Linked DNA regions of Homo sapiens: region 2 is linked to region 1. A link means that fine-mapping ties the variant in region 1 to the expression of a gene that starts in the linked region. Tissue or cell type: atrial appendage. Region 1 holds a variant in brackets; the other region holds the start of a gene. All regions are shown on one strand. Distances are from middle to middle.

Region 1 (9,893 bases):
TAAAACTAGTCACAAGAGTCAGGTCTTTGCAGTTACCTATGAATTAAGTCACAGTGAACTAAGGAGTGTCTTCACCTGTTTATCGAATATAGAAATAAACCAGGCATATTCCTTATGAACAAACTAGCAAGGAGAGGAAAACCTGAAGAAAAGCCACCTGTAAAACAATTCCCGTGGCCGGGCACGGTGGCTCACGCCTGTAATCCCAGCGCTTTGGGAGGCCGAGGTGGGCAGATCACCTGAGGTCGGGAGTTTGAGACCAGCCTGGCCAACATGGTGAAACCCCATCTCTACTAAAAATACAAAAATTAGCTGGGTGTAGTGGCAGGCACCTGTAATCCCAGCTACTCAGGAGGCTGAAGCAGGAGAATCGCTTGAACCCGGGAGGCGGAGGTTGCAGTGAGCCAAGATGGCACCTTTGTACTCCAGCCTGGGACGAGTGAGTCTAAAAAAAGAAACAATTCGCATTTATTATTGTTTGGGGTTTTTGGGGGGGGGGTGGTTGGTTTGGGTTTTTGTTTTGAGACAGAGTCTCGCTCTGTCACCCAGGCTGCACTGCCGTGGCACTATCTTGGCTCACTGAAACCTCCATCTCCCAGGTTCAAGAGATTCTCATGCCTCGGCCTCCCGAGTAGCTGGGATTACAGGTGCACACTACCATGCCCAGCTAATTTTTGCATTTTTAGTAAAGACAGGGTTTCACCATGTTGGCCAGACTGGTCTCAAACTCCTGGCCTCAAGCGATCCGCCCACCTTGACCTCCCAAAGTGTTGGAGTACAGGCATGAGCCACCACAATGGCCTTGTTTTGTTTTGTTTTTATAGAGACAGGGAGTTGCCATGTTGTCCAGACTGATCTTGGCCTCAAGTGATCCTCCCGCCTTGGCCTTCCAAAGTGCCAGGATTACACACATGAGCCACTGCGCCCAGCCTATTGTTGATTATTAAGAGGAGTATTTCAGCCACATGGGTTAGATTGCTGGAGGCCCTTGTATAAAATGCAGACTTCTGAATGCCACCCCACCAGCCAAATCAGAATCTGAGGCCAGAGTCTGCTGCACACTAAAATGTGCACCTGATTTGCCCACAGCCCAAGTTAAACTAGAAGTAACAGTTGCTGAATTTGCTTTATTATTGCCTGATTGTCAGACCCAAGCTTTTCAGAAACCATTGGCATCTGTGTTAAGCTGTTGTGGGAGAAAGACAGACAAGCAAGTCGTCATTTTTATTGCCAGAAACTATTCTGAGATTTTAATGTGAAAAGTGGAAATTTTTTAATTGAGTTAGAAGAAAAACCTGGAGATTCGTGAACAATTAACAATAGGTGCAATCAATGAACCCCCTGCCAGCCGTTAAGCCTTCTAGTAGCCATGTTTTATGACTTTATGTAACCTAAATCATGTTTTAACAAATTTTAACCACAAAAGCATGGGGTTAGTATTTCCATTTTAAAAGAGAAATGACTACACTTTTGAGGGTGATTGTATCTCCCTGGATCTTTGAATTAGCCTAAGAAAATATCCAAATATGGCCTGGTGCAATTTGAATTGAGACCTCTGATTCTAGACTAACTTGCTAGGGTACAGTTAATGAAGTTCTGTCTCATTCCAAATCAAAATACTGTACTGCACTTGAGTAACAAATTCTATGTGCTTCCTTGCTTTTACTTAAAACTGATTCCCCTCTTAAAGGAAAACTCATTTCTGTCTCTCTGTTTTTCCTTCTCTAAAAGGAGCCTTTTATTCTGTGTTCATATTGGTTAAAGTAGTCTCCGAGTGCCCTTTGTTATTTGAGCTGCCTGGTAGCAGGAGGGCTTCTGCAGTCATGGGACTTTCCCAGGGGCACATCTTACTATTGTTTGAAAGTGACATGAGGTTCCCTGTTACAGCACAAGCTTATTTTACCCACTCCCTCTCTCTGAACTCACAGAAAAGGGAAAAGGACAGTTAGGAGAACATATCAAATGATGAGAGTGTTTCATAACATACTGAGCTGTGCATTTTGAAGCAGTAAAGAGGATTTTTCCAGTAACACTAATCCACAGCAATTTAGAAACCATCAGTACATACACCTGTTCCTGAAGGCAGTCATGAGCTTTCCAGGCTCCTTTAAATATGGAAGAGAAATACCTCCAGTAGTGCCTAAACCAAATAATCTCTCTTCCCTTATACTTCTATTGTTAGAGTTTAATCTTTCATGTTAGCCTTTTTTTTTTCATTTTTTGTCAGTGTGCATCTCACTTTTGGATTTCCACTTAATCTTTCATTTGTTTACAGTGCAGTTGTCTCCCTTCATATTTTATTTAGATCAGTGGTTCTTAAGTTTGGCTGCAATTTAGAATCACCTAGCGAGTTTTTAAAAGTCCCAGTTCTCAGGCTGCACACCAGACCAATTCTATCAGAATCTGTGGGTGGGAGGCCAGGCTAGGATCCAGGCATTAACAATTTTTGAAAGCTCCCCCAGGTGACCTGAATATCTAGCTCAGGTTGAGAACCAATATTTAGATTGTTGGTCTATAAGCATTACAGAGACTTTTGAACAGTGGTCCTCAAACTTTAGAGGGCAACAGAATCCCTGGAGGACTTATTAAAACACATAAATTAAAAATTGGATTAGAAAGGGAAGCATCAGAGGATCCATCCTGAGCTCTGCGTGAATGTGAATGGGGTCCCTTCGATATCATGATTATATGAGTTGGGGGATGGGAGGGCACAAAAGAAGACACCACCCAACCCTTAGGAAGCTCAGGATCTTGCAAAGGAGGTAGAGCTCACACCTGGGCAGCAGCAAGTTTTCTGAGCAGCCATGAAGCAGCAGAGAGAGCCTGGGGCTGACAATGCCTTTACTCCCATTCTGTCAGAGGTGTTTGAACCAGAGCAACTCCATCTTGAGTAGGGGCTGGGTAAAATGAGACCTACTGGTCATCTGCATTCCCAGATGGTTAAGGCATTCTAAATCACAGGATGAGATAGGGAGTCGGCACAAGATACAGGCCATAAAGACCTTGCTTGTAAAACAGGTTGTAGTAAAGAAGCCAGCCAAGACCCACCAAAAGCAAGATGGCCATGAGAGTGACCTTTGGTCATCCGCACTGCTACACTCCCACCAGCGCCATGGGAGCTTACAAATGCCATGGCAATGTTAGGAAGTTACTCTATATGGTCTAAAAAGGGGAGGCATGAATAACGAATAATCCACCCCTTGTTTAGCATATCATCAAGAAATAACCATAAAAATGGGCAACCAGCAGCCCTCGGGGCTGCTCTGTCTATGGAGTAGCCATTCTTTATTCCTCTACTTTCTTAGTAAACTTGCTTTCACTTTACTCTGTGGACTGGCCCTGCATTCTTTATTGCACAAGATCCAAGGGCCCTCTCTTGGGGTCTGGATCAGGACCCCTTTCCTGTAACAGTTCCATCTGGGGCAGATCACCTAACCTCCCCTGAAGTTCCATGCTGACTTCTGCAAAATTGGAACATTAACAGTGTTTTGACTGCTTGCAACAGTGTAGTTACTCGCAAAAGGATTATTTGAAAACATCCATAATTCCCTTTCCCCCTCCCTAACAATAACAAAATATTTTGAAACTACAAAAAGAAAAAATGGTTTTGTATTTGAATGTGTTAAATAGGGCCATTTCCTCTCCAGTTCACTACAGTCCCCACCACTCACTATAGCCTTCTTTTTTTTTTTTTTTTTCACTCTTGTTGACCAGGCTGGAGTGCAATGGCACGATCGCAGCTCACTGCAACCTCCACCTCCCGGGTTCAAGTGATTCTTCTGCCTCAGCATCCTGAGTAGCTGAGATTACAGGCATGCAGCACCACACCTGGCTAATTTTTGTATTTTTAGTAGAGACGAGGTTTCACCATGTTGGTCAGGCTGGTCTCGAACTCCTGAGCTCAGATGATCCACCCGCCTCAGCCTCCCGAAGTGCTGGGATGACAGGCATGGGCCACCGCACCCGGCCCCTATAGTCTTTTGACTGATGTTTCTTTACCAACTCAGGTGTTGTCATGTGATGCCTAGAACTGGGCATCCCATCTTATGACCAAGATAAAGGCTGGCCCTTGAGCAAAGCTGGTCCTCAGAGAACAGAAGGGAAAGATGGAAAGAACCTAGCCCCATAATGATTTTCTTGTGCTACTGAACTAACCCTACAAGAGCCTTACTTCTGGACTTTTAAGAAAGAAAAAAGAAAAATGGGAGAAAGATAGGGAAGAAGAAAAAAGGAGAGAAAGGAGAAAAAAGAGAGGAGAGGGAGGGAGGAAAGAAGGAGGGAAAAAGAGGAAGAAGAAAGGGGGAAAAACATCAGCCACCTTTAAGAATTTTACATGTGCTGGTAAGAAATAATATAGCTTAAAAAATAGATTTCTGCTTGTGTAGCCCAATTTATTAATTTTTAAAACTATGATCAGATGGTATTGATTAGTGGTCTCAAAATAAGGGAGAGAAACACCTATTTCTTGTGTTATTTTTTATTAAAGCAGGGAACAAATGGGACCTTCACAGTCCTTAAAGATGAAATACCCCCAAACCAAACCAGAGTTCACTGGCAAAGCAAAGCAGTGTCCTTACATCTCGGAGGGCCCTGACCCGCCTCTGTCCCGAACCCCACCAGCAGCGGCTCTGCTAGAAAGGGAACATTTTGTTCCTTTATTGTGGTAAACCAGACCCAGGGCCCCGCTGGTTCTCAAGTCAGCTGTGAAGCTGACACACTGCCTCTCAGGGTCAGTTTGGCCCCCACAGCAGGCCCTGGGGAAGCAGCCACGCCCTCAGCTCCCTTGGGGCCCTGTCTTCCATTCCTTAACAGGACCAGCTTCTTCAGAGACTCTGGACTCTCATAAACGTTGAAGCCAGATTGTTTCCCTCTTTGCTTTTGTTTTGATGTATTTTTAAATAATTAGGCTTTTACTCTCAAGTATTTTCATTCTCCATCACTGGCTGAGGGGCAGCTCTCACACCACACTAGG[G/GCGC]CAAGGCATGCTACTATGGTATCCAGTAAACAGTTGCCAAACAAAGTCAAAAGTTCTCTTTGGCCAAAGCCAAAATCAAGTTCTCTTTTGTACTTGTTGTTCTTCCATCTGCCCTGAGCTATGTCATAGCTGTCAAAATATGTCACCCCCTGCACCTCCGTGCAGGGTTTAAGAAAAGCAGCTCCTTGGACTTTTGCCAGCGACTTTCTTGCAACATCTTAATTATCCATTTTTTGCTTAGCAAGTAAGTCTAGAAAGAACTGCTTCTTTTATTCTTGGAAAGTAAGTACTTGGGAATGTTCAATGAAAACCAGTATGTGCTGAACTCCTGCTCTGTGCTAGGTTCTGGGGAAGGGGAGGCAGTCCCTGACCAAGGGGATCTCACAGTCAGTGAGGAGAGTGTCCCCTGAGGTCGCTGGGAAGAAGCAACACATTTCCCTGTCCAGTGGCAACTACCTCCTCATCACCTAATCCCTGCGCCCGGAGCACAAACTCATCCTAAGCAAAGGCAACTGAGCAGCTGTTTTCCTGTTCACCCCACCTCAGGTCCTCACTACTTTCCTACCGATACCATTCTAAGTTCCCAACGCATTTTGTGAAAGTAAGTCAGTTTGATTCATCATATAGTCATTGGTTCTGATGTTGTGGTTCTAAGCTTATTTTATACATTGTTATCTAATTTATTCTTTCTTAACAACCCTGTATAGTAGAGATACTTCTTCTTGAATTACAACCAGAAAATTTGGAGAGGTTGAAGAACTTGCCTACAGTCACCCAGTAAGGAGGTGGAGCCAGGATTCAAACTCTGGTCTGATTCTCGGCCCTGGTGGACACTGGCTTTCAGAGCTGTAACTTGCAGTTTTGGTGCCCAGAACCTGCAGCACAAAAGCTCCGCAAATGACTTTGTGATTTATTATGAAACTCAAAGAAAGAACAAGCTTCCTACTTTAATTTTCCTTGCTAATGACAGTTTTCAGCTGAAGAAATCCATGTGCTGTCAACATGTAAATATAACCTTTTTTTTTTTCCAATGTCTGTTCCCGGGACAGAGCCTCCCAGTAGGCCTTGCACTGTGCTGCATGTGGTCCCTGGAGTTTTACAGCCTCACTACAGACACAAAACAGAGTGGTTAACACAAGCAATCCTGAATTGCATAAATGTGCTGGATGCCCATGCTAGACTAAGAAAGTTCTTCGTATTCAGGAGAAACACTGTGGCCCTGAGAGGCCAGGGAAGGCCACGTGGAAGAGGAGAGTCCATGGGTGGGTAGGATTTAGGACCAGGGGAGAAGAATTGCAAGCAAGAGCTGGAAATATACAGTTGAGGCTGGGAAGAGCTCACACTGAGAAGTGGCAACACATAAAGTTGGAAAAGTAGGTTGGAGCCAAATTGCTCAGGATTTTAAGTGCCAGAAGGAGGAATTGGAGAATGGAAGCTGGGAGACCAGGCAGGAAACAGCTGTTCTCCAGGAGAGAGAGAGCAAGGGTCTGTCCCAAAGTGGGAGCACAGGTAGGAAACAATTGAGAGGCATTTTGAAGGATGAAGGCTCCTCTGTCTCCTGTGCCCAGGAGCCCTGCCCTCTGCTAGGCTCTGGGACTAGTAATGCTGATTAACTGATCTGCCAGTGGATGCATTGGCCCTCCCTGATGACCCGGCACCCTTCTTGGAGAAGAGTGGGACTCTGGCCCCCTATCCCTCCATGTTCAATTGCCCACATCACTCAACTCTTCCTGTCCACCACACTTACCCTCCCAAGTGTATTTCCTCATCTGCAAAAACAGCATGAGAAAGCTCCTCCTTCCTAAGTTTATTGTGAGGTTGAATAAGGTCATGCGTGGAAGATGCAAAGCACAGGGCCTGGCGCTTGTAACCGCTCAGCAGATGGGAACCGCCAGCATAAATATTCTGCACCCTTGGTCAGCTGGGACCCATTATTGAGAGTGGCTATTCTCGTCTCTCTCTATGAAATGTTAGACACTAGCAGACAGCTGAAGGTGAAATCAAGCAAGTTTGAACTGTGGTCTCTCTCTGGGGCTCCTTGTCAGGTAAGTTGGACATAAGCAACTTCCTAACAAAAGAGCCAGAAGTTGTTTCATTCTGACAGTGAAGCATGACTTCATAGTTTCTTATTCTATAAGTTGTACAGACAGACTTTTCTTCCTTTTTGTGTTTATGCCATGATGTCTTGGAGCCAAGCTATAGCAGAGCCCCTGGATAGGAATTTAGGATGCTTTTGGACCCCTTCCATAGAGGTCAAGTCCTGGGAATACTGGAAGGGCCTTCACACAAGAGCTCCCTCATCCCATCCCTGTATGTCTTGGACATAGAAAGAGAGGAGGAACTGACATTTAACGACAATGTGCTGTGGCTTTGACACGTGTCATGTTATGTAACCCTCACACCAGTCCTATGAGATAGGGATTGTTATCTGCACTGTTGTAAGTAAGGAAATAGTCTTGATTGAAGGGCCTTACCCAAACTCACACATCTAGTCATCACTGCAACCAACATTCTGCCTCTTGGTGCCCCTCGCTGAAGCTCCTTATTTCCTGCATACTCTCCTCCTCCCAGGGCTGCTGAGGCCACATGGTAAGCCTACTGCTGCTGTTCCTATGAGTTTCCTTTTTCAATGTGTTTTTTAGGAGACGAGGCCTCACTGTGTTGCACCACCTGGAGTGCCATGGCTATTCACAGGCACAATTGTAGCTTACTACAGACATGAACTCCTAGGCTCAAGTAATCCTCTTGCCTCAGCCACTCGAGTGCAGGGACTACAGGTGTGTGCCACCATGCCTGGCCTGTTACCATGACTTTCCAATTCAGCAAATTTTCTGTAATAGGATGATTGAGAGGTTTGTAGTTCCATAATGGTGGCTGGCTATAATGATTACCTATAACTATATAATTGGGAATAAACTGAAACAGGTGCAAACTCTAATCAGCCCCAAATAACATCTTAATGACAAGTAGAGGACAAATTAAATGGAAGCAAAGTCGTAGGACAGAGTACAGAAAAGCATGGTGACAGGAGTTTCTTGTCTGTCTCTAAGGAAGTAGGATGGGATGGAGAGTCAATTCAATTTAGACAGAAGCTGAAGATCAAACAACAGAACATTTTAGCTTCTATTTTAACTATGTATTTTACAGCTGGATTCCAAAGAAGATAAATAAATTATATTTGCACCTATCATCTTTTCAAATATCTTTGCCAACAAAGTCATTCAATATATTGAGTGTCCCTGTGGTCAAGATCTTACACATTTAATGTATGAAAGAGGAGAGACAAGGCCCTGCAGCAGAAAATCTCACAATTTGAGGGAGAAGAAATGGGAGCAAGGAGTTGTTTAAGAAAGACAAAATACATACAAAGTAATGTGTCCGCAAGTGGGAGCCATGATAGCTGTGGGTGTGGAGTTGCCACATGATGATGTTCCATGGCTGGCTGCCTGATCAAGCGGAGCCTCAAAGGTCATCTGTGGCTTGGTAGAGGCCTGGGTCCAGATCGGGCCCTTAACTTTTAAGTTTCAGAAACCCCATGTTGTAATCAGCCCACACAACGTTGACCAGGCCTCAAGGAATGGACTCTTGCCAACCAAACTCCCATAGTAGACTGACGGGAAAACCAGCATGCCAGTTGAAGTAATGTACCATCAGAGACACACCTTTCTAATTACTATGCAGGGGACCCCTTTCTGCTGTGTACCAGAAAAACTGAATTAGCATTTAGAAAACTACTTGTTAAACAGGAATCAGGGTAAAAGAAGTCTTCAGGAGTGTGTGGCTCAGATCGTTGGTACAGTCTGGAACATTTTTGCCATTCCCTGACACCCCTGGGGAAACACTAGCTAGATTCTTACTCTTCACCTCTCTTCTTCTAGGCTCCTTACAGACTCTTTCATGCCTTTAATTATCTTTACTTCTCATCAAATAACATGACTTATTACAACTTACCTTGTCATTACTTTTTGTAATTTAATCTTCCAATAAACTTTGGGTATCTAATCTTGATGTAGCAAACCATGAAATCCTCAGCAATATGTTTGCAAAACCACCCCAAGGATGGGTTGCATCTGCAAGTGTTTAATCTCAATTTATATTGTGAAGATTCTTATGGCTTCCCCTTCAAATCCCGACACCCTTTGACCTTGTCCCCAAATTCCAGAGGTGCTATTATCCATACAGACATATGTTATAGATTCCAGAAGTGCTAGAAGATTCTGGAAGATAAGAGGAACTGAATTTATATTGCTCTGAAACAGGATGCACAGAAAAGCAAGTCTCACACCACTCCTCTTTCATGTCTGATGCAGCACAAGTGTATAGACAGCTCATCCCTGGAGCTCATGATAACAGAGTTCCTTCTAGCCTACTTCAGTTGTAGTCAGCCCTAGCTACTATAACAAAATACCATAGACTGGGTGGTTTAAACAACACACATTTATTTCTCACAGTCCTGGAGGCTAGAAAATCCAACATCAAGATACCAGCAGATTCTGTTTGGGTGAGGGCTCTTGGCTTGCAGACAGCCACCTTCTCACTGTATCCTCACGTGGTGGGGAGAGTGAGCTCTGGTCTCTTCCTCTTCTTATAAGGACACTAATCCAGTAATGGAGGTCCCACCTTCATGCTCTCATTTAAATCTGCCAGAGGCACCACCTCCTAATAAATACCATCACACTGGGGGTTAGGGCTTCAGTATATGAATGGCAGGGGCACATTCAGTCCATAGCAAATGCCCACCAGGTTCTGCTATACCAGATATTTTCTATTAAGTGGAGAAACTGTAGATAGTTTTCTTTTTTTTTTTTTTTTTTTTTTTTTGAGACGGAGTCTCGCTCTGTCGCCCAGGCCGGACTGCGGACTGCAGTGGCGCAATCTCGGCTCACTGCAAGCTCTGCTTCCCGGGTTCACGCCATTCTCC
Region 2 (9,893 bases), 61 kb before region 1:
TTTAAAGATTAGGTTTCAGAGAATAACTCTTCCAGCTACCACCTTATTGTAATCCTTTTTGTTCCCCAGTTTATTGAGCAGATTTTGGTCAGTGTCTACTCTGTGCAAAGATACGCTGCTAGTGCTGTTGAGGCTTTTGAGACCCTGATAAGATAGCTTTCTTACCTTTAAAAAGCTCACTGCCTTAAGACTATGAAAATGGTACACAGTGTTTGTAAGGCATTAATTAAAACATTCTTGCCTAACTAGTATTAAAATTACCAGGTGACTTTACTAGCCAATGTTTTAGATTCATACCATGCAATTCCAATTAAATTGATCCTCTGTAATAAATTATGTCATCTTCATTAAAATGTTCAATAAAGTTAAAGATTTTAGGGAAATCTAAACCCAGATAGTTTTAGCATCACATGCTTTTTATTTTTATAGCATCTCCTTTTGGGATTAGTGACAGGTTTTAGAATGATAGAATGCTCACAGTCATTGTGGGTAATTATATTTCCTGAACTGTAATTATATGTACTCTGAGCTTATAGATAATTCAGCAGGTTTGTTCTTCTAACAGAAGTCCTACTGAACTGTATTTTAGTAAAATGTTAGTAATTTTCTACAACCATTACCAAGGAAAGAAACTTGTCTGTAATTGAATATGAATGTCAGAGTTGGAAATGCCTTAGAGACCCTGTCATTCAAGAACCTCTTTGTACTCTGTGCATGTTGAAGGCTAAGGCCACACAAGGATTAGAACCAGGTCTAGATCGGATTCTCTGACCCATAGTCAGTATTTATAGAAGCAGCACCTATACTAAAATATGTGCTTAGAATGTTTCGTTTTTGCTGTAGCAGATGAGAAATACTTCTTTATAGTACAAATTCTTCTGAGGAAACAGTTTCAAGAGCCAAGACTTTTTCCTTTCTCTCTAGTTACCTCCCACAAGAGTAGCAGAAGTAGAATGGGTAAGGTATGTTCACTCTGTCAGATCTACTAACGAGCTGGTCTATTACAGGCCACCTTTTCACTCTTGCGAACTTCATACCTATCTGCCATTTTTGAAGGATGGCAGTGGATACCCTAAGACAGAGCTTTTCTGTCCAAATTTCCACATAAGTACCTGTTTCTTGATTTAAGAAACCAGCTCCTAAGTTGTTTATGCCTGTTGTTAATAACAACACAATAACAGTAATTAATATTTATTGAGTGCTTGTTCAGTGTTAGGCACTGTTTTAAGCCATTTTCATGTTTTACTTATCACCACAACCCTATGAAGTAGATTATTATGATCCCCACTTTCAGATGGAAAACTTGGCATCCAAAAGTTAAGTACCTTATTATCAAGAGTCACACAGGTTCATAGTGATGGAGCGAGAATTTGAATCCAGGCTGAAGACTTCAGAGTTCATGTTTTCAATCCCCTGTATTTATGTAGCTTAACACATGTTAACTATTTGCATTTATAACACTGAAGTAATGCTGTATCATTTTATAAAGGAGGAAAATCCTTGAGAAGCTAAATCACTCAAATGGGATTCAAACCTTCTACTCCTAACTTTTCTAGACCTATGATTTTTACCCTAGTCATGTCATAACCACAGAGGAGTCTTAAGTTTATGTTTCTTGTTTTTCGCTGCCTTTTCCTGGTTTATGTCCCTTTTCATTGACCGGTTACTTAATTATGCAAAAGTATTTATGGATAATTTTTGGTAGAATTTGTGTCCACGTTCTGCCAGATCATTTTTTTACATCTCAGACTCTTCTGCGGCAATTTCTTTCCTTCTGTATGTATTCTGTCAGCTGATAGTTATATATCTAACCTATGATTATGGACCCCTCCCGAAAACAAAGGTCATGTCAATGAAATATAACTCTTATGCTGTCGTCATGAAGACTACTGCTACTTTCACTTTCTAAAACCATGTTCCTTTTTTGGTATTTTTCAATTGAATAGTGTCTTCAAAATGGGTAGATAATGAAAATAAGGCAAATATAGATGGAGTATGGAGAATTATTATTATTTTACTAACAAGAGAGGGAATGAAAACAAAAGATAGGGAGGACATAACAATCTGTATTTCTATCGAGGCCTTCTTTTGCTGACTGATAGCCAAAGCACACATGGGTATTTTTTTTAGCTTTTTATGTTTTCATACCTTGCTTTCTGACATATATAGAAAATTTAGAAACAGTCATCTATTTTATTTTTAAAAATAGACTTTTACTATGTAGGAGTTACCTATACCAAAAACCAATAAAACATTTATTATATCTCCAGATTCGTGGAATTTAGATATGGGTTATTTTAAAAACTAGGGACAAGAAATAAAAGCCATCATCCTCCTGGGCACATGCATATCATTTTTCCTATATATTTAATTTAACTTACCACTGCTAAAGTCCATTCATTTTAATACTAGAATGGAAACTCTGAGATCATAAAATTATTTTACTTAAATAATATTTACTATGAAATAAACTACCAAAACAAGGAAAATGCAGGAAGTAATATAAAACTCTAAAACAAATAGAATTTTATGAGCAATATTCTGATTGAACAGCTTGTATTAATACCAGACACAGATTTTTATAAAACAGCTAAAAGCGCATCATCCAAGACTGCTGTTAGGACTTTGCATCAGTGTTGTCATTGAAGAACAAAAAACACCAAAATGCTAATCTAAATTAAAACAAAAACAGCTTCCTTGTGTGTATTCTGCCTTGGCTCATTGTGGTTCCTATAAGATTAAATCATAAGATAAATCACTGTTTACCATAAGAGAAAGTGGTCTAAATTAGCATTTAAAGGAGGCAACTAAAAGTTTAGTTTTTAAATAAATATAATTTTTTTTTAATAAATACAAAAGTATTGGCTTCACTGTCACTTAAAGCAGGGCAAGGAGCCACATTTCTTAAGTAGTAGACTAGCTACGTCAGGAGTAAAGAACTGGTTTTAAAAATACATTTACTGTTATGTTTTCTGAAAACATTCTCTTATTTAATATTTTCTCACATATGTTCAGTTTTGAAGCAAAAGATCCATAAATCTATGTTACCTCATAAAACTTTCTGTATATGTTAAAATTTTCCTAGGCCCCAAGAGAATGTTATAAATTAGTTATAGAATACTTACGTTTAAATTTAAGTCTTTACTTAGTTGTTTTTAGAAGAGAAAAAAAAGTCTTCTATGCGTTGGGTTAATTTTATTAGTAGCTTTTCTCTTCATAGTTGCTATATTGCCAGCTAGTAGAGAGAAGAAACGAAAGTCAGGATTTGCCTCCTTTCAGATGGTAAACTCACAGAGGCATTTAACTGGCTGTGTCATGCACTGAAAACAGCATGAGGCAATGAAGTTAAATTTATGAAGCATTCAGGATATGTTAGATAAAGAATTTCTAGATTGTGAAATATGTTCTGGGAAGAGACTTGAGAACAATCTAATCCCCTGGATATATTTAAGAAAAGGATAAATAGTTATCTGTGTAATTTGGGGTTCAGATTAAATGCCTGCCTTAAGACAGCGTCAGTAAGAACTGAGGCTTAATGAAGTCCTGCACTTCCCATAGCATGCAACAACAAAAAAGAGAGATGACAGTATTTCAGATCCACTGTTGCTTGGAAATTTTGTTAGAATTTCTTGTAAAATATGTGTTTAACAGAAATCCTGCCAGCATTTACAGTTTTAAATCTTTAAGGAAAGGACACAAAAGCAAAGTTGGAAAAAATTTTAGCTTTACCATTATTTGCTTGTTCAAGATTCTTAACCATTAATATCTTTAATTTTTACAAGGCTAAAGGAGCCCCAAATCTAACAAACTTAAGTGTCTTTGGTTTAAGGCATACTATTGGTAACGAGTAATTTTATCTTTAATAGTTTTTATAATGCATGTAAAAAAAGCTCCCAGATAGAATATTGAAGGAAACCTCTTATGTGTGCTTAACAAAATTATTTCTACCTAAAATATTACATATTTTTGGCCTTTTAGTCATGAATTTAATTACATCTTCTGGGTTCTTATTTTCTATTGTTAATACCACTTACATAATGCTTTTGTGTGTATATCAATAACTTAGCTTTTCCAAGTGATTCCATTTGTAGCAAGTTTAATTTCTGTCATCCAAATTAAATTACTATTACATGTAAGCCTGGAAAGCTATTTAAAATTTTGAGTTGGAACAAGAAATGCCATAGATTAATCTTAAATCTGTACAAGAATTTCTGCTTAATATTTGGTTATACTGTAATTGAGATTTTGTTGCAAAGACTTTCAACTATTTTTGTATCTTAGCTTTGTTTTATGACTACACTGAGAAATCCAACAGTTTATGTATATCTTCAGCACACACACTGTGGCTGCAGGAAGAGAAACTAATTGTGTTCACGACTATTTAGTTTGTATTCCTTTGTTTTTAATCATTGTGCTGTAAGCCTTATACATTTAATCTGTTACTTGTTAAAATTTCTTTCTACTGTCACTAAAGCACTTGTTTTCAGAAACCCAGCATGGCATGCATGTATCAGTCTGTAATCATATACACTAAACATCATTAAATTGAACCTCAAATAATGCATTAACCATTGCACAGTACTTAATGTTTTTATGTCAAGTTGCAAGATAAAACCTTTTTCAGATGAGATAAACTGTAGTATATTCCAAAGGTCTTTGTTTAGTAAAAGATTCTGAAATTTCTACTACAAATATAAAATAGTTATGCATTTGCTATACATAATATTTTTAAATAAAAGAAATATTAAATACCTTTTTGTGTCTGTTGATTCAGTGAATCCAGAAACTTGCTGCCCTTATTCTTGATTTTAAAAATCAGTGTAGAAGTTTGTTCATCTGTGACTTTAATGGCAGCTGCATTTTTGTTTTGGACCGTTGAATCCAAGCTGTAAGAAGGAACTTCTTTTTCCTTTTACAATACTAATCAATTGAATTTGACAAGCCACCTATGTAATTTTAAGTAGTATAGTGGAAGTTCTGGTCTGTGGGCCGTCTTTAATCCAGCAGAGAAAGCGTTGTGGCTTTGCTCTGTCTGCCACATGGAGAAATGCAGTAACCAGCTGCAGCTGACCCAGATTGTATATACAGTACCCCTGAATAGTGATTCCCTCTTTCTCAGTAGACTCAAGTTCAGCCCACATATTACATCACCAAAAATTGCTGGAGACTGGGGGCGGGAATCTCCTTAGGATTTCCTCTTTGTAGCCTTAAATAGGGGGGTGGGATCAGCAGGAGGTTGAATAGTTTTGAACAAGGAGAGATTGTGTGCAGGTTGAAGGAAGGGCACCATCTGGAAACAAACTATCATAGTTCAGCGGGCAATTATAAAACAAACATTTTAGTCTGCTGGCCAGAGATCTTTTAAGTTGAATACCGAAAAAAAAAATAGTGCTCCACTTCACTTAGAAGTAGTTGCAGGCTGATGAGTTTGGTTTTTGTTAACAAAGAACAAGAGCTAGACTTTGTCAGGAGGCAGCCACCTAAATAATGTAATAAATACTCTTTATAGCCTAGAAGAATTTGTAAACATTTTACTAAGTTGCTAATGAAGGTTTTAAACTTACAAGAAACTTGATGTTGTTGTAGTATGTTATGTCTTACTGTGTAATGTGTCTTAAGATAAAACAGCCTTTATATATAATTACCAAACATAAGTGAAATTCTTTCAGATGCTTAAGACTTTTAAATATTACATTCTGGTGTTACATAATGTCATATCCTCCTATTCTACAAAATGACCTCTCCTCTCTGTAAAAGGTCATTCTTGTTATTAATTGATGTGGTGTGGTTTAAAAACAAACATAACCCTGAACTGAGTAAAAAACAAGGAAGCTCTGACTCTATGCCAGCTATGTGAACTTAGACAAATCACTTTACCTGCCTCTGGCAAGGTTCTTCTGCTATGAAATAAGGTGGTGGAAGAAATGAATAAGTGTTGAGTACAACTATACTATTGTATTTCATTAATTGAAGAAATGTTAAATAACTCAGTAGCTGAAGAAACACAAACTTAGGCTTAAGTAACTTAGCTTAGCACTTAAGTACTAAGTAGTGGAACTGGGATTTGAATCTAATGCCAAAGCATTATGCCACACTCTCTGTCATTGATTACCTAGTTGCTGTAAGCTGCTTCTAGATAAAACTTTTGGGCTTTCTCTACATACCTGTGCTTTCCCTTCCTTATTGCTGTAGCTTGTGCTGTGTTTCTCTTTCTGTTAGGCCACACTGTTGATCCACATCCTTTATTTAAAGTCTGAGCTTATTTTCTACCTCTTTCACAGAATCATTTATTTGAATTCCTATGCCATATATAGGTATACCAGAGGTTGCAAACACAAGGGCCTAGAAAGGCAAATGCTCACAAGAAGAATGGAGCAGGTAATATAAATCAGTGAAGTAAATCAGTAGTAAGATACTGGAGGGAAATGAAGTTTATGGCAAGTTGGCATCCTTTTGGTTAATTTAAAGGGATCTGCCTGCACCTTCTCAGCTGTGCTTGTGGCCATGAAGGATTATGAGACAGTGTTGCCAGATCTTCCCATTATTCAGGAAAAAAGAGCCATTTAGATTTTTCCTGTAATACTTCCTGATTTTAAAAAACATTGGGACAGATGTGCTGCCAGCTTCTGGCCTCTGATTTGTATTATGTATCGTTTCTTGAGCATTCAGTAATTATGTTGTAGTCACTAATGGCTTAAATCTGGGAAAAATAAGAGATAATAAATTCTTTCTGAGCTTTTAAACTTTCAGCAGTTTGGAGCTTTCTAACTTGAGCACTTAGTAATATCACTAGCCAGGGTAGGAAATTGGAATGACAGGTATTTAGGGACAGATTATGGTTAGATATGTTAAATTGAAAATGAAAGTCAGGAGCTCAGTTATATGGAGAGATTTGAAAGTCACCAGCAATTAGGTAGTAGCTAAAGCTATGGAACTAAGATACTAGAGAAAGTACATGTAGAATGTAAAGGAAGGTTAATGACAGACCATGATACCAATTTCCAGGAAACCAGCTTACAAGAAACATGAGGAAAAAGAAGAATGGTGGGGGCTTAGGGGGAAGATACGAAAGTTCAAGGTAGGGAAAACCTGAGAACTAGACGAGAATGGTTACAATACTGCAGAGACATTACATAGGGAGGGGAGACCAAGAGAGATGTTTTAAGACTTAGAATGAGAAAGTTATTAATGCCATTGCCAAAATAAGTGATACATACAGATTTCAGATTATTTAGTGTGTTGAAGGGTGACTAGATAAAATTTAACTGACAAATTAGTGTCCACAATACATTAAGAAATTAGAAATCCATAAGAAAAAGACAACCCAAAAGAAAAAATGAACAGAAACATTTATTACATAGAAATATATACGTTTAACCTTATTACTAATCAAGGAAATAAAAATTAAGACACAGAGAGATACCATTTTATACTCAGAAGATTGGCAAAATTGAGATGGATAATACCAATTGTTAGCACAAATGTGGATCAACAGAAGCTTATATACCGTGAGTGGGAGTATGAATTGATACAGCTTTGAAAAATAATGTGACACCATCTTGTAAAGTTGAATATTAATATACTTTAGCACTTGGCAGTTTTGCTCCTAGGCATGTTTGTATATCCTGAAGAAATTTTGTACATGTGTACTGGGAGATGTGTATAAGAATGTCTATAGCAACATGGTTGGGGGTGGGATGGGAGTAACTCAAAAGTCTATCAAATAAAATGGATGAGTTACAATTGTCACACATTAGCTTGTTCTCATTATAAGGAATTACAGCAGCATTTAACAGCGTGGACAAGTCTTAGAAACAAAATAGACGAAGCAACCACAGAAGACCATATTTTTAAATTTTATTTAATAAATGCTTATAAATCACTTGGTATGTACTAGACACTTTTTTTTTGAGACGGAGTCTTGCTCTGTCACCCAAGCGGGAGTGCAGTGGTACGATCTCGGCTCACTACAAGCTCCGCCTCCTGGGTTCTCGCCATTCTCCTGCCTCAGCCTCCCATACTAGACACTTTTCTAACATTACAAATACTATTATTTAATCCACACATACAATAAAATATGATTTTTAAAGCTCAAAAATAGGCAAAAGTAGGAATACAGACAAATGTCGGGGAAAAAATAAGGGAATGATCTTAAAGTTCAAGGTAATGGTTACTTCTGGACAGGAAGCAAGGAGATGAAGTAGAGAAGGAACATACAGATAGATGCAACAGTATTGATGATGTCGTAGTTCTTTTTTAAAGTAGTTTACCCCAACATATTAAAATATTAACATGTAACCAATAAAAAAGTTAATAGATATTTTACATTAATTTTTCATGTTAACTCTTCAAAATCTTGTCTATTTTATATTCAAATACACCTCAATTCAGAATAGACCCACGAAACAGTAGTCACATGTGGCAAGTGGTTATATTGGACAGCACAGTATAGCGAGTGACTACAGGCGAGTTGTCATCTGAGTTTAATAAGATGGAAGAATGGCAAGAACTGGCACATTAGTACCCCGCTCAAATCCCACTTCTTCCTTGAAGCTTTCTCTGATCCCATCAGCAAGGAATGACATTTTTTTGCACAGAATTCTTATGAAACTCCTGTTTAAACTTTTCTGTGCTACTTTTTTATATCTTCTATTGCTGTTATTGATGTACATATGCCAACATCCCCGTGCCATTTCCTTGAGGAATCTTTTAGCTCTCCTTAGGGATGTTGTAGTCATAAGTTGACTGGTCTTTCACAAATGTTTATTATGTTGTTTGATAACAACAAGTGTCACATGTGTTGATAATTTTTTCTTAGGGCAGGAGTCTCACCATGTTGCCCAGACTGGTCTCAAACTCCTAAGCAGTCTGCCCGCCTCAGCCTCCCGAAGTGCTGAGATTACAGGCATGAGCCACCGTTCCCGGCAATAATTTTTGTGAAATCACGATTCTCACACAAATATGAAATGAATATGTGTCAGAATTTTCATTTAAATTATTAAATTTATAAGGGAATCAAAAATGTGTCAAGGGAGAATTCAAAGTAACACACATATATGCAATCAGGAACGCTGAAGTAAATTTACAAATAGTTGCAAAATTGGTCATCACTGATTAGATCCCACTGGACATAATTCTTTGGCATGTTTATGGACAATAATTTGTATTACCAGTTTTCAACAGCTGTGCAGAGTTGTAAAATAGCTCAGAAGGACCAAATGGGTGCACTGGAGACAGGATACCCAGTAATCTTTTTTCCCATCTCAAAGTTTTTCACAATTTTCCTGACACATGTGTATCAAATATTACATTAAAAATAGAACGAAGAATAAAAGAAGTGTACTATTGTATGTTTCTCTTCCAAGGTGTTTGTTGAAGGGAGGACAAGGATGTTATCTTGAGGCGTGGGATCAGATTTGAAGGAAGAGTTGCTTAGATTTTGTTTTATAAGTAGGGGAGATTTAAACATGTATATTGGGCCAGGTGCAGTGGCTCATGCCTGTAATCCTAGCACTTTGGGAGGCTGAGGCGGGTGGATCACTTGAGACCAGGAGTTCGAGACCAGCCTGGCCAACATGGTGAAACCCCATCTCTACTAAAAATGCAAGAACTACCCAGGCGTGGTTGCGCATGCCTGTCATCTCAGCTATTCGGGTGGCTGAGGCACAAGAATCACTTGAACCCAGAAGGCAGAGGTGGCAGTGAGCCGAGATCGCACCACTGCATTCCAGCCTGTGACAGAGCAAGACTCTTTCTTGAAAAAAAAAATGGTTTAAAAAAAAATATGTATACTGGCTCTGGGGAAGGAGCCAGTAGGGGTGAATGATAGTAGAGGCAACAGTGGTTGTCTGGAAGGAGGCAGCAACGATTGCATTCAAAATTACAGTTGAGAT

Alleles and levels. Alleles are on the strand shown, and positions count from the first base shown. SD is a standard deviation of normalised expression in the study named.
As copies of G replace GCGC in region 1, the expression in atrial appendage of the gene that starts at base 5,089 in region 2 goes down (small effect, 0.30 SD a copy in GTEx).

What was found. PIP is the estimated chance that this variant, and not a neighbour inherited with it, causes the effect.
Region 2: ANGPTL1 starts here. The variant in region 1 is fine-mapped to the expression of ANGPTL1 in atrial appendage (GTEx, PIP 0.96).

The regions. Positions count from the first base shown.
Region 1 is chr1:178,927,348-178,937,240 of GRCh38, forward strand. LOC102724754 (a long non-coding RNA gene) reads right to left here. Exons shown (of 3, transcript XR_426873.4): 3 at 9,552-9,631. Among named protein-coding and RNA genes, the nearest start is that of ANGPTL1, 61 kb to the left of the region's middle. The variant G/GCGC (reference allele first, on the strand shown) is at 4,973.
Region 2 is chr1:178,865,989-178,875,881 of GRCh38, forward strand. It overlaps ANGPTL1 (angiopoietin like 1), which reads right to left and starts at 5,089. Exons shown (of 6, transcript NM_004673.4): 1 at 4,753-5,089; 2 at 3,126-3,235. All of the region lies in intron 8 of RALGPS2 (Ral GEF with PH domain and SH3 binding motif 2), which reads left to right.